4 linked regions of the Homo sapiens genome follow. The protein of the gene in region 4 purifies or fractionates together with the protein of the main gene of each other region. This does not show direct contact. Each region holds a gene or a part of one and is shown on either strand. Other genes may lie near its edges.

Region 1 (3,500 bases), about 14 Mb from region 4:
CCATTTTATGGTGTTGGGAAAACTGGCTAGCCACATGCAGAAAACTGAAACTGGACCCCTTCCTTACACTTTATACAAAAATTAACTCATGATGGATTAAAGACTTAAATGTAAGACCTAAAACCATAAAAATCCTAGAAGAAAACCTAGGCAATACCATTCAGGATATAGGCATTGGCAAAGACTTCATGACTAAAACACCTAAAGCAATGGCAACAAAAGCCAAAATTGACAAATGGGATCTAATTAAACTAAAGAGCTTCTGCACAGCAAAAGAAACCATCATCAGAGTGAACAGGCAACCTACAGAATGGGAGAAAATTTTTGCAATCTATCCATCTGACAAAGGGCTAATATCCAGAATCTACAAGGAACTTAAACAAATTTACAAGAAAAAAACACTCAGCCCTATCAAAAGGTGGGTGAAGGATATGAACAGACACTTCTCAAAAGAAGACATTTATGCAGCCAACAAACATGAAAAAAAGCTCATCATCACTGGTCATTAGGGGAATGCAAATCAAAACCACAATGAGATACCATCTCACACCAGTTAGAATGGCGATCATTAAAAAGCCAGGAAACAACAGATGCTGGAGAGGATATGGAGAAATAGGAATGCTTTTACACTGTTGGTGGGACTGTAAATTAGTTCAACCATTGTGGAAGACAGTGTGGCGATTCATCAAGGATCTAGAACCAGAAATACCATTTGACTCAGCAATCCCATTACTGGGTATATACCCATAAGATTATAAATCATTCTACTATAAAGACACATGCACACATATGTTTATTGAGGCACTATTCACAACAGCAAAAACTTGGAACCAACCCAAATGCCCATCAATGATAGACTGGATAAAGAAAATGTGGTACATATACACCATGGAATACTATGCAGCCATAAAAAAGGATGAGCTCATGTCCTTTGCAGGGACATGGATGAAGCTGGAAACCATCATTCTCAGCAAACTAACACAAGAACAGAAAACCAAACACCACATGTTCTCACTTATAAGTGGGGAGTTGAACAACGAGAACACATGGACACAGGGAGGGGAACGTCACACACTGCGGCCTGTTGAGGCTGTGGGGGTAGGGGAGGGATAGTACTAGGAGAAATACCTAATACAGATGACGAGTTGATGGGTGCAGCAAACCACAATGGCATGTGTAAACCTATGTAACAAACCTGCACGTTCTGCACATGTACCCCAGAACTTAAAGTATAATTAAAAAAAAAGAAAAAACAAAAAAGCAAAACGATACTTTTTCTTTTCCTTGAAGTCGTTGGATTGCTCAAACAAGCAAACTAACTAAAATACAATTTCAATTCAAAATAGCATTTATTAAATGACTAGACATGTAAAAAATATTTTACTCTTTTATTGGTAGGTGTTTTCTGTAATGGCCACAAATGCTTTTGGAATTAGGCAAAATATAAATAAAGCTGTATAACAGACTTCACAAAATTTGATAAACAAAAATTATAGGTTGTCTCCACTCTTTTGCTGCAATATATTCCTGAACTGAAAAGTAAAATGAAGAAAATGATTTCTTTTCACTGGGCAGTTTAAGAAAACCAAGAGCTTCAGACTGTCCTTTTTTACCATTAGATGGCACTGGCCTGTCAGTAAGGCAAACTGCAGGAACTACCAGAAATTAACCGACAGGCAATTCCAAGGTCTAAAGTGGGAAGCAGGCGTTTCATTGGTCTCAAATAAGTGGATCAGCAAAATTGAAAAGAGTGAAAATCAAGGGCTTTAGAAAGTTATATGTACAGTTTTGCAGGATTATATCTCTGAAATGAGGTAAATCTTAATTTACATTTCTTGTTTTTTTCCTTTCTAGAATGATTCTAATTTGCAGTGAAATTAATTATCTAGTTCCAGAAGTTCGGACCTTATTGATGACTCACTGTAGCAAACTGCTGTAAGGGGAATTCACGATGATGCCTCTGGGTTGACAGACAGGCATTTGGTGCCAGGTGAACCTGGGTTTGATTCAGTTTCACCCATTATTAACTTTCATTAAATCCAGTGACTGGCACACAGCGGATATTCAAAAAATGTCAAGTTCTTGTCCTTATACTCCTTTCTCCACTGTAAGCTCCAGGATTGCAGGGGGCAGTTCACATGTCCTTAGAAGACTGTTGGTCATATAGTAGACGCCCAATTTGTGACTGCTAAATGCATAAAATTTAAACAAAAATTTACTACTCGGCCAGGTGCGGTGGCTCACGCCTGTAATCCCAGCACTTTGGGAGGCTGAGGCGGGCCAGGTCAAGAGACCAAGACCATTCTGGCCAACATGGTGAAACTCTGTCTCTACTAAAAATACAAAAATTAGATGGGCGTGGTGGCGTGCACCTGTAGTCCCAGCTACTCGGGAGGTTGAGGCAGGAGAATCGCTGGAACCTGGGAGGCGGAAGCTGCAGTGAGCCGAGACTGCACCACTGCACTCCAGCCTGGTGAAAGAGAGAGACTCCATCTCAAAAAAAAGAAAAAAAAAAAAAAAGAAAAAAAAATTACTACTTAACCTATCTGGGCATTAAATAATTCTCTTAAACACATGAAATCCATATCATTATTCCAGCTTTTCTAAACACAGAAAGATACTTTAACTCACATTTTTAAAGAATACGTCCGTGCCCAAGGCATTTAGCTAGTTTATAGATAAAAGATACAAAGATCTTGCTCTGAAGAAGCTTACAGTTTAATAGGAGGATCAAACTACTATGAGGTAGGAAACCTTAATTGTATAACTGACGGCTATAAAAATAGTTCTGGGGAACTCAGAAAAGGCAAGATTACTTCCTTGCGGGGAAATCAGGAGAGGTTTAGCAAGGAGATAGCAATGGGCTTGGCCTTGGAAATGGAAGATAATCTGTTTCTGTGCATACAGGAGGAAGGAAAACGCACAGATGAGGGACTCCATGTGCCAGAACATGGAGATATTTGGACAAAAAATGAGAAGTAGTGCAGTTTGGCACCTAGAACTATACGATGGTGGCAAGTAGAAAATAAGGACAAAGCGTTGAGCTGAGGCTCTTCACTGATCTTATAAGGAGTGGAGAGTCGTTGCCAGCTTCTGATTAGGGAGACTATGTCGCTAGTGATTCTGAAGATTTTTTGGCAGTACTGTGCAAGATAAAAGGCAGGAGACAGTTCAGAGATTAAATTACTAAGTCAGGGAGATGGAATGAGGAACAGTATCAGGGGAATGGCAATGAGATAGACAGGTAGAAGTAGGAGTCTTTATGGGGACAAAAATCCTTGGCAATGCCCTGTGTGGGGATAATAGGGAAGGAGTCAGAGGGTGCCAACGTTTTCAGTCTGAGTGGCTAGAAAGATGCAATTTCCAGAAGACAGATTGTAGACATGTTAAGCTTAGGTCCTGGGGAAAGTATCTGAGTAGGGCGGAGAGATGCTACATAACAGAGAGCAGGGCAGTGCGGCTCAATGACGAGCATGGATTGCCTGGCCACTGGGGACATT
Region 2 (3,174 bases), on a different chromosome or scaffold from region 4:
CCCAGCAATTGCAGAACAGCCCTAGTGAAGAGGAAGGAGCTGTGTGTGCACCTGGAAAGCCCACCGCATAGGGCTGGAGGCCCCAGAGAAGGCTGTTCCCAGGGGCCCGGTGCACGCACCTACATGGGAAGACATCTGCCTGCACCTAAAGGGGACCTGCCGACCCTGACATCTCTCACTGCTGGCTTTGTCCCTAGGTGGCAGGCACTGTCAGGGCAGTCCCTTTCCTACGTGGAGCTACCTGGGTCACACCACCACATCCCAGCTCCATCCTGGAGCCACAAGCAGGAGCTCTGGCTGCTGACCTGAGCGGTCACTCCCAGCTCTATGCTATGGGGACCTTGATTCTGACTCCACTCTGGGAAGGGCCAGGGCTCGGGAGGTGCACCTGTACGTCCTGACCAGCTTGTTGGCATGTGGCTCCAGCAGCAGGCCCCGCAGAGTGTTCTCCACGCAGGCCCCGATGTGGCGCTCAGGGATGCCCCGGAGCCGAGCGTACATGACCAGCATCTCCCGGCCTGTCATGTGGTCCAGCAAGGCATCAAACTGCGGGCAGTAGCCGATCCGCTGCCGCACCTGGGGTCGGAGCATAGCCGGGGAGGGAGGCGGGTTGGAGGGAAGCCTCCTTCCTCCAGAGGACCACGGGGACTACCCTTGAGGTGCCCACCACTGCGCCTGTCTGTGGTTCCTGCCAGTGTGTGTACACGGGGGCGCTGGAGCTATGCACAGGCCGTGGTGGCTGCCCACAGTGGAAGCTCTTGGAACAGGGACACAGGAAGGATGTGCCTGGTGCAGGGAGGCTTCCAGAGCTGCTCTCAGAGCCTGGTCCAGGACAGGCAGCCATGGGGTTAGGTGGTGCAAGAATGGCCTTTACGTAGAAGCAGACTCAGAGCTGGCTACCCACTCATTCACACCTGGGACATCTGATGTGCTAGGACTCTTTCTTCTCCCTCTAAGAAGAAAGATTTGTGGGCACCACGTTTGGGGTGAGTACTGCTTGGTCAGATGGTGCAGCAGCTGTTCTCTGCACAAGTGACCACGTCCAGCTGAATTAAGACGTGCCTGCTGCCATCTGCTTAGCTACCTTCAGCAGCTGGTCGGGGGCAGGAGTGCCTGGGTTCTGTGGATTCCAGAGACTGGATTTCTTTTTCTTTACCTTCCTTCTTTGGGGTTCTCAAGCTTCCAGAATTTTTTTTTTTTTTTTTGAGACAGAGTCTTACTCTGTCTCCCTTACACTGGTAGAGCGCAGTGGCATGATCTCGGCTCACTACAACCTCTGCCTCCCAGGCTCAAGTGATTCTCATGCCTCAGGCTCCCGAGTAGCTAGGATTATAGGCACCTGCCACCATGCCCTGCTAATTTTTGTATTTTTCTTTGGTAGAGACAGCATTTTGCCATGTTGGCCAGGCTGGTCTCGAACTCTAGACCTCAAGTGATCTGCCTGCCTTGGCCTTCCAAAGCTGGGATTATAGGCGTGAGCCACGCTCCCAGCCCAGAATCTGTTTTTAATCAGTTTGGGGAAAGTCTTAGCCACTACCTTTTTGGCTACTACCCCCTGCCACTCTCTCTCTCTCTTCCTTCTGGAACTCAGATTACATGTACTGGGGACTTCTCACCCTCTCCTCCATTGCTAGATCACATACGGTTTTCTCTCCCCTGCATAGATTTTCAATTGCATAATTTATTTCTGTAGACACAGTGAGTTTATAATCTTTTATAATCTGGCCTGATGATGCAGATCTAACGCCTATGTGCTTGTCCCCCCATGGGGCCTGTGTCTATTGCTTCCAGCCATGGTACCATCTCCTCTGTTTGTTTGCTGTGCATTGCCTGTAAGCCCTGGAACCCTCTATGGGGGAGTCTGCAGCCTAGGATGAGGCTTTCCTCCCGAGAGGGCCTGCATGTGCTCTGGCCCAGGGCCTCTGCTGTCCAGGCACCCCTGGTGTGAGCTCAGGAGAGGACTCCGCGGCCACTTCTCAGCCCCAGGCCCTGCTTACCATTTCCCCTGCTCTGCTTGGCACACTTGAATTCCCATGCAGGCCCCGGGCAGAGGTGCAGGAGGGCTGCCTCTGGTCCTTCTGCGGGGGAGCTGGTGGGGCTCAGCTCAACATGGGAAAGCTGGGCGGGCCCAGGGCCTTCCATCCCTTCACTCAGCAAGGCCTCTAACCCCACACCTGAGCTGCCTGGACACAGAATGGCCTCTGCACAGAGGTGGCTGTCAGTGCTGAATGCGCCTCTCTGGGCTCACGGATGTTGGCACCCATCTCTCTCCCCTCCCATCACCTGCTAGTTCTGGCGAAGCTTAGCTTTAGCTCATTACCTTGTCTCGCTGTCCAGAGGCATGTGCTGGGCCCATTTCAAGCCACAGATGCAGCAGCTGTTTGGGGACAGCATCCCTCTGTCCCTGCCTCCAGGGTGCCCCCTCCAGCCATGCCTGTCTCACCCCTTCAGAGCCTCCCTGGCTGCACCCACCTTTCCGACATCAGAGCTGATTCTGTGACCCCCGACAAAGGCATCCCCAGAAGTGAGGCTCTCCTCCCCGGTCAGCATTTTGAAAGTCGTGGTCTTCCCGGCTCCATTGAAGCCCAGCAGGCCGAAGCACTCCCCTTTCTGCACCGCGAGGGAGAGCCTGTCCACGGCCAGGAGGGGCACCCGCTGCTCGTACACCTGCAGGCACCCAACAGAAAACACGGAATGCGGAGGCCTGGACGCAAAGCAGAGCAGTCTGAGCCTCAGCGCCGAAAGCTTCCAGGGATGGGGTCGGACCCTGGGGACAGCCAGGTAGTCAGCTGGCAGGAAGGACTCCACCCCAAATTGCAAGGGTACCTTGGAGAGCTCCTTGATAATCAGAGGTGTGTGGAGCAGGGAGTCCGGACTGGGGGCCAGGATGCGGGTCCTCTCGTCCGCTACATCTTGGTCCTCAGGAAGCACAGGCATCCGGGTGTATAATTCTGTCTGATTGACCAGGACAAAGACCGCATGCGTGAACCCAGCCGCAGGGCGGCTTCCGTGGAGAAGGGAGGGGCGGGGGTGGATGTGGGAGGTCTGGTGGGACTAAGGCCTTCAAGGCTTCTCGTCCCAATCTCAGGCCCCACAGGTGCGACTCAGACCTTTTACTAGAAGACACAGTGGTCTTACGGGGCTAAACTAGCATCCAGGAGACATAAACTATCT
Region 3 (3,500 bases), on a different chromosome or scaffold from region 4:
CGCATGGATCACCTGAGGTCAGGAGTTCAAGATCAGCCTGGCCAACATTGTGAAACCCTATCTCTACTAAAAATACAAAAATCAGCCGAGTGTGGTGGCATGTGCCTGTAATCCCAGCTACTTGGGAGGCTGAGGCAGGAGAATTGCTTGAGGTGGAGGTTGCAGTGAACCAAGATGGCACTACTGCACTCCAGCCTGGGCTACAGTGCGAGACTCCATCTAAAAAAACATAAAATAAAACAAAAAATAAAATAAATAAATAAATAAATAAATAAAAATACAAAAATGAGCCTGGCATGGTGGCATGTGCCTGTAATCCCAGCTACTCTGGAGGCTGAGACAGGAGAATCGCTTGAACCTGGGGGGTGGAAGTTGCAGTGAGCCAAGATTCTGCCACTTCATAACAGCCTGGGCGAAAGAGCGAAACTCCATCTCAAAAAGAAACAAACAAAAAAACCCAAAAAACAAAATGATCACCCCATGTTTATTTTTACCTATAACATTTGTTTCAAGAAAGATGTAGGTTATAAGTGCAGGGCAACCACAGTGGGCAGGTAAGCACCAGCTTGCAACAAGAAAGCCCAAGGGCCAGGCACAGTGGCTCATGCCTGTAATCCCAGCACTTGAGGAGGCGGAGGTGGGAGGATCCCTTGAGCCCAGGAGTTTGAGACCAGCCTGGGCAACATAGTAAGACCCCATCTCTACAAAAAAATAAAAAATGAGCCATGTATGGTGGCATAGGCTGGTGGTCCCAGCTACTGAGAAGGCTGAGGTGGGAGGATCGCTTGAGCCTGAAAGTTTGAGGCTGCAGTGAGCTATGACTGTGCACTCCAACCTGGGCAACACAGTTAGACCCTAACTCAAAAAAAAAAAAGCCCAGAGTAAATCCAAGCATATGAAAATGAGAGCATCCCAAAAGCCAAAAGTTTAAATCTGAGTAGCCTCAAATTTACCAGTTCACACTTTTTATACATTTCCGGTAGATGCATTATATTAGTAACGTAATTTTTGTTAATAACTCAATTTTTTGTTTGTTTTTTGAGACAGAGTCTTGCTCTGTCACCCAGGCTGGAGTGCCATGGCACAATCTCGGCTCACTGCAAGCTCCACCTCCCAGGTTCACGCCATTCTCTTGCCTCAGCCTCCCGAGTAGCTGGGACTACAGGCGCCCACTACCATGCCCAGCTAATTTTTTGTATTTTTTAGTAGAGATGGGGTTTCACCATGTTAGCCAGGATGGTCTCGATCTCCTGGCTCCAGGATGGTCTCAATCCGCCCGCCTCAGCCTCCCAAAGTGCTGGGATTACAGGCGTGAGCCATCGCACTCGGCCAAGGAAAGGGGGTTTTCTAGCAGCATCTACTCCTGTCTATACACAATGCCCAAGAGATTTAACTGCTTGACCTTTGACCCCTGTGGGTAATGGCCAGAGCCAGGCTGGATGGGGGAATAAACAGTTGCTCCAGAACCACGCCCCATCAACTCCATGAGTTTGGCATCCTAGAACTTCTTGGGATGGCTGCTCTCAGATAAAGGCAGAGTCCATACAGTTGGTGCTAGGAGGTTCCCTGGAGCCAGAGAGGACAGCAGAGAGCAAAAGGGAGAGGCTGAACCCTGAGGCTAACCTCAACCTCCTAAATTCATTTACAGAAAGGAAAACTGGCCGGGCGCGGTGGCTCACGCCTGTAATCCCAGCACTGTGGGAGGCCGAGGTGGGCCGATCACGAGGTCAGGAGATTGAGACCATCCTGGCTAACACGGTTTTCACCCGCCTCCACTAAAAATACAAAAAAATTAGCTGAGCGTGGTGGCGGGTGCCTGTAGTCCCAGCTACTTGGGAGGCTGAGGCAGGAGAATGGCGTGAACCCAGGAGGCAGAGCTTGCAGTGAGCCAAGATCGTGCCACTGCACTCGAGCCTGGGTGACAGAGCGAGACTCCATCTCAAAAAAAAAAAAAAAAAAGAAAGAAAAACTACGGATCAGGCTTCCGTCCTCCTCGTAGTTACACATTACCAGCCAATGCAATTGAGAGTCCCAAGGGAATAAAAGGTGAGTGCACGCATAAAACTCACCAGAGATTGGAGGAACACAGGCACCCTGATAAACAGAACAGTCTGTACCAGAAGGAGCAGAATAACTGAAATTAAACATGGATTTGCTCAGAAAGATAAGGATAATATTGAAAAGTTGTTTTAGCCAGGGGCAGTGACTCACAGCCTGTAATCACAGCACTTTTTGGGAGGCCAAGGTAGGCAGATCACTTGAGGTCAGGAGTTCGAGACCAGCCTAGCCAATATGGTGAAACCTGTCTCTACTAAAAATAGAAAAAAATTAGCTGGGCATGGTGGCACATGCCTGTAATCCCAGCTACTCAGGAGGCTGAGGCAGTAGAATCATTTGAACCTGCAAAGTGGAGGCTGCAGTGAGATGAGATCATGCCACTGCACTCCAGCCTGGGTGACACAGCGAGACTCTGTCTCAAAAAAAAAAAAAGTCGTTTTGAGGAAGAACCAATTGAGGCAATTTGTTATGAAAAATACAATTGCTCAAATAAAAATTAAGTGAATGAGGTTAATTGAAATACATACAGCTAAATAAAAGATTAATGAGCAAAAACTGCGTTGAGAAACTCAGAATGCACCAGGAAAGACAAGAAATGAAATGAATGAGAGAAAAGTTAAGAAATAAAGCAGTTGGCCAGGCGTGGTGGCTCACGCCTGTAATCCCAGCACTTTGGGAGGCCAAGGCGGGCGGATCACCTAAGGTCAGGAGTTCAAGACCAGCCTGACAACACGGAGAAACCCCATCTCTACTAAAAATACAAAAGTAGCTGGGCATGGTGAGGCAAGCGCTACTCGCGAGGCTGAGGCAGAAGAATCACTTGAACCTGGTAGGTGGAGGTTGCGGTGAGCTGAGATTGTGCCATTGCACTCCAGCCTGGGCAACAAGAGCAAAACTCCATCTCAAAAAAAAAAGCAAGCAAGCAAGCAGCTGCGTGGGTGCAGTGGCTCACACCTGTGATCCCAGCACTTTGGGAGGCCAAGACAGAAGGATCGCTTGAGCCCAGGAGTTTGAGACCAGCCTGGGAAATACAGCAAGACCCTGTCTCTACAAATAATTTAAAAGTTTGCCAGGCGTGGTGGCACGTGCCTGTAGTCCCCGTTACTTGGGAGGTGGAGACATAACTATTTCTTGAGCTCAGGAATTTGAGGCTACAGTGAACCATCATTGCACCACTGTACTCCAGCATGAGCTATGGAGTGAGACAGTCTCAAAAAAAAAGGAAAAGAAATATTACAGGATATTTTGAGGGAATTCCTAGGAGATCAAATATAGAAGAAATGCTAAAGTTTCCAGGAAGCCAAGTAGATCACCTACAAAGACTCAAGCATGGGAATAACATCACATTTCTTAACAGCGACACTGGATGTACAATTCAGTAATAGCTTCAAAGTGCTGAAAGAAAATAATTTTGAACCTAGAATTTCATATACAGGTAAAAT
Region 4 (2,420 bases):
TTGTCAATCAAAATTATTCTGTATTGCAACTTTTCTCAGAGATTGCAAAGGATTTTTTAGGTAGAGATTATTTTTCCTTATGAAAAATGATCTGTTTTAAATGAGATAAAATAGGAGAAGTTCCTGGCTTAACCTGTTCTTACATATTAAAGAAAAGTTACTTACTGTATTTATGAAATACTCAGCTTAGGCATTTTTACTTTAACCCCTAAATTGATTTTGTAAATGCCACAAATGCATAGAATTGTTACCAACCTCCAAAGGGCTCTTTAAAATCATATTTTTTATTCATTTGAGGATGTCTTATAAAGACTGAAGGCAAAGGTCAGATTGCTTACGGGTGTTATTTTTATAAGTTGTTGAATTCCTTAATTTAAAAAAGCTCATTATTTTTTGCACACTCACAATATTCTCTCTCAGAAATCAATGGCATTTGAACCACCAAAAAGAAATAAAGGGCTGAGTGCGGTGGCTCACGCCTGTAATCCCAGCACTTTGGGGAGCCCAGGCGGGCAGATTGCTTGAACCCAGGAGTTCAAGACCAGCCTGGGCAGCATGGTGAAACCCTGTATCTACAAAAAATACAAAAATTAGCCAGGCATGGTGGTGGGTGCCTGTAGTTCCAGCTACTTGGGAGGCTGAGGTGGGAAAATGACTTGAGCCCAGGAGGAGGAGGCTGCAGTGAGCTAAGATTGCACCACTGCACTCCAACCTGGGCGACAAGAGTGAAACTGTGTCTCTCAAAAAAAAAAAAAAACAAACAAAAACAAAAACAAAACAAAACAAAACAAAACAAAACAGGTAAGGATTCCCCTGTTTTCCTCTCTTTAATTTTAAAGTTATCAGTTCCGTAAAGTCTCTGTAACCAAACATACTGAAGACAGCAACAGAAGTCACGTTCAGGGACTGGCTCACACCTGTAATCCCAGCACTTTGGGAGATGGAGGTAAAAGGATCTCTTGAGCCCAGGAGTTCAAGACCAGCTTGGGCAACATAGCAAGACTCCATCTCTTAAAAAATAAAAATAGTAACATTAGCCAGGTGTAGCAGCACACATCTGCAGCAGCTACTCAGGAGGCTGAGGTGGAAAGATCGCTTGTGCACAGAAGTTCGAGGCTGCAGTGAGCTATATGATCATGTCACTGCACTCCAGCCTGTGTGACCGAGCAAGACCCTATCTCAAAAAAATTAATTAATTAATTAATTAATTAATTTAAAAAGGAAGTCATGTTCATTTACTTTCCACTTCAGTGTGTATCGTGTAGTATTTTGGAGGTTGGAAAGTGAAACGTAGGAATCCTGAAGATTTTTTCCACTTCTAGTTTGCAGTGCTCAGTGCACAATATACATTTTGCTGAATGAATAAACAGAAATAGGGAAGTAAACCTACAAATATTTTAGGGAGAAGCTCACTTCTTCCTTTTCTCAGGAAACCAAGCAAGCAAACATATCGTTCCAATTTTAAAACCCAGTGACCAAAGCCTTTGGAACTATGAATTTGCAACTGTCATAGGTTTATGGATATTGCTGTGGAGAAGCTCAATTTTCAGTGTTTGAACTGAACCCTTTCTTGTTAGGGAACGTGTGAAAGAAGAATTGTGGGGAAAAAAAAGCAAGCATAACCAAAGATCATCAGCAGTGAAGAATCTAGGCTGTGGCTGAGAGAACCAGAGGCCTCTAAAATGGACCCGAGTCGATCTTCAGAACAGGGATCTACCATGCAGGAGCTTCTTGTGCTCACACAAATCTGTAAATGGGAACATTGTACATTGTCGAATTTAAATGATATTAATTTTCTCAAGCTATTTTTGTTACTATTTTCCTAAAATTGAATATTTGCAGGGAGCACTTATACTTTTTCCTAATGTCTGTATAACAAATTTCTATGCAAGTACATGAATAAATTATGCTCACAGCTCAGTTTTGTATAATGTGCCATTTATAGCCATCATGTATATGAACAATCACAGGCATAAGTAGGTATCGCTTATGTTGCACGTGCTAGAATCCTTATTCCTTTCTTACACTTGGTAATAGCACCAGATGTATAGTTGAGTAAACCCTTTTCAATTTCAGATTGGCAGGCCCATCCCCTTGGGTATCCTCTCAACTATCCATTATTCTTTCAACTCCTGGATGAGAATGAATAACTGAGGACAGTTGTTCAGGACATGCTCCTAACACTTTGAGATCAATATCCCAAGAGCCACTTCTATGCATTCCCAGACAGGCCCTGGGCACCACCATCAGGGCTGACCCTGGGCCACAGCATGCCTCAGGGGTCAGCTCTCTAGGACCAGCCACTTGTCAGAATGTTATCCCCTGAGGCTGAAGCCACAGCCATGCTTGTCTCTTCCACAGAAGCACTTCTCTTCCACACCCTTTCACCACAGTTGGCAGATTTGAAAGAAAATATGGTA

The links. Proteins that work in one complex are often made in the same cells at the same time.
Region 1: the proteins of SLC14A1 (region 4) and DSG2 purify together in Homo sapiens (affinity purification with mass spectrometry; one large-scale study listed by BioGRID and IntAct). This does not show direct contact.
Region 2: the proteins of SLC14A1 (region 4) and ABCA3 purify together in Homo sapiens (affinity purification with mass spectrometry; one large-scale study listed by BioGRID and IntAct). This does not show direct contact.
Region 3: the proteins of SLC14A1 (region 4) and BCL7B purify together in Homo sapiens (affinity purification with mass spectrometry; one large-scale study listed by BioGRID and IntAct). This does not show direct contact.

Annotation. Positions count from the first base shown.
Region 1 is NC_000018.10:31,504,677-31,508,176, reverse strand, and holds part of DSG2 (desmoglein-2 preproprotein), read right to left. Parts: intron 1-3,500.
Region 2 is NC_000016.10:2,278,555-2,281,728, forward strand, and holds part of ABCA3 (phospholipid-transporting ATPase ABCA3), read right to left. Parts: intron 2,956-3,174; coding exon 2,827-2,955; intron 2,668-2,826; coding exon 2,473-2,667; intron 577-2,472; coding exon 389-576; intron 1-388. UniProt on the Homo sapiens protein: Catalyzes the ATP-dependent transport of phospholipids such as phosphatidylcholine and phosphoglycerol from the cytoplasm into the lumen side of lamellar bodies, in turn participates in the lamellar bodies biogenesis and homeostasis of pulmonary surfactant.
Region 3 is NC_000007.14:73,544,191-73,547,690, forward strand, and holds part of BCL7B (B-cell CLL/lymphoma 7 protein family member B), read right to left. Parts: intron 1-3,500. UniProt on the Homo sapiens protein: Positive regulator of apoptosis. Plays a role in the Wnt signaling pathway, negatively regulating the expression of Wnt signaling components CTNNB1 and HMGA1.
Region 4 is NC_000018.10:45,750,601-45,753,020, forward strand, and holds the end of SLC14A1 (urea transporter 1), read left to right. Parts: 3' UTR 1-1,577; coding exon of another isoform or gene 1,578-1,622; 3' UTR 1,623-1,920; downstream 1,921-2,420. UniProt on the Homo sapiens protein: Mediates the transport of urea driven by a concentration gradient across the cell membrane of erythrocytes.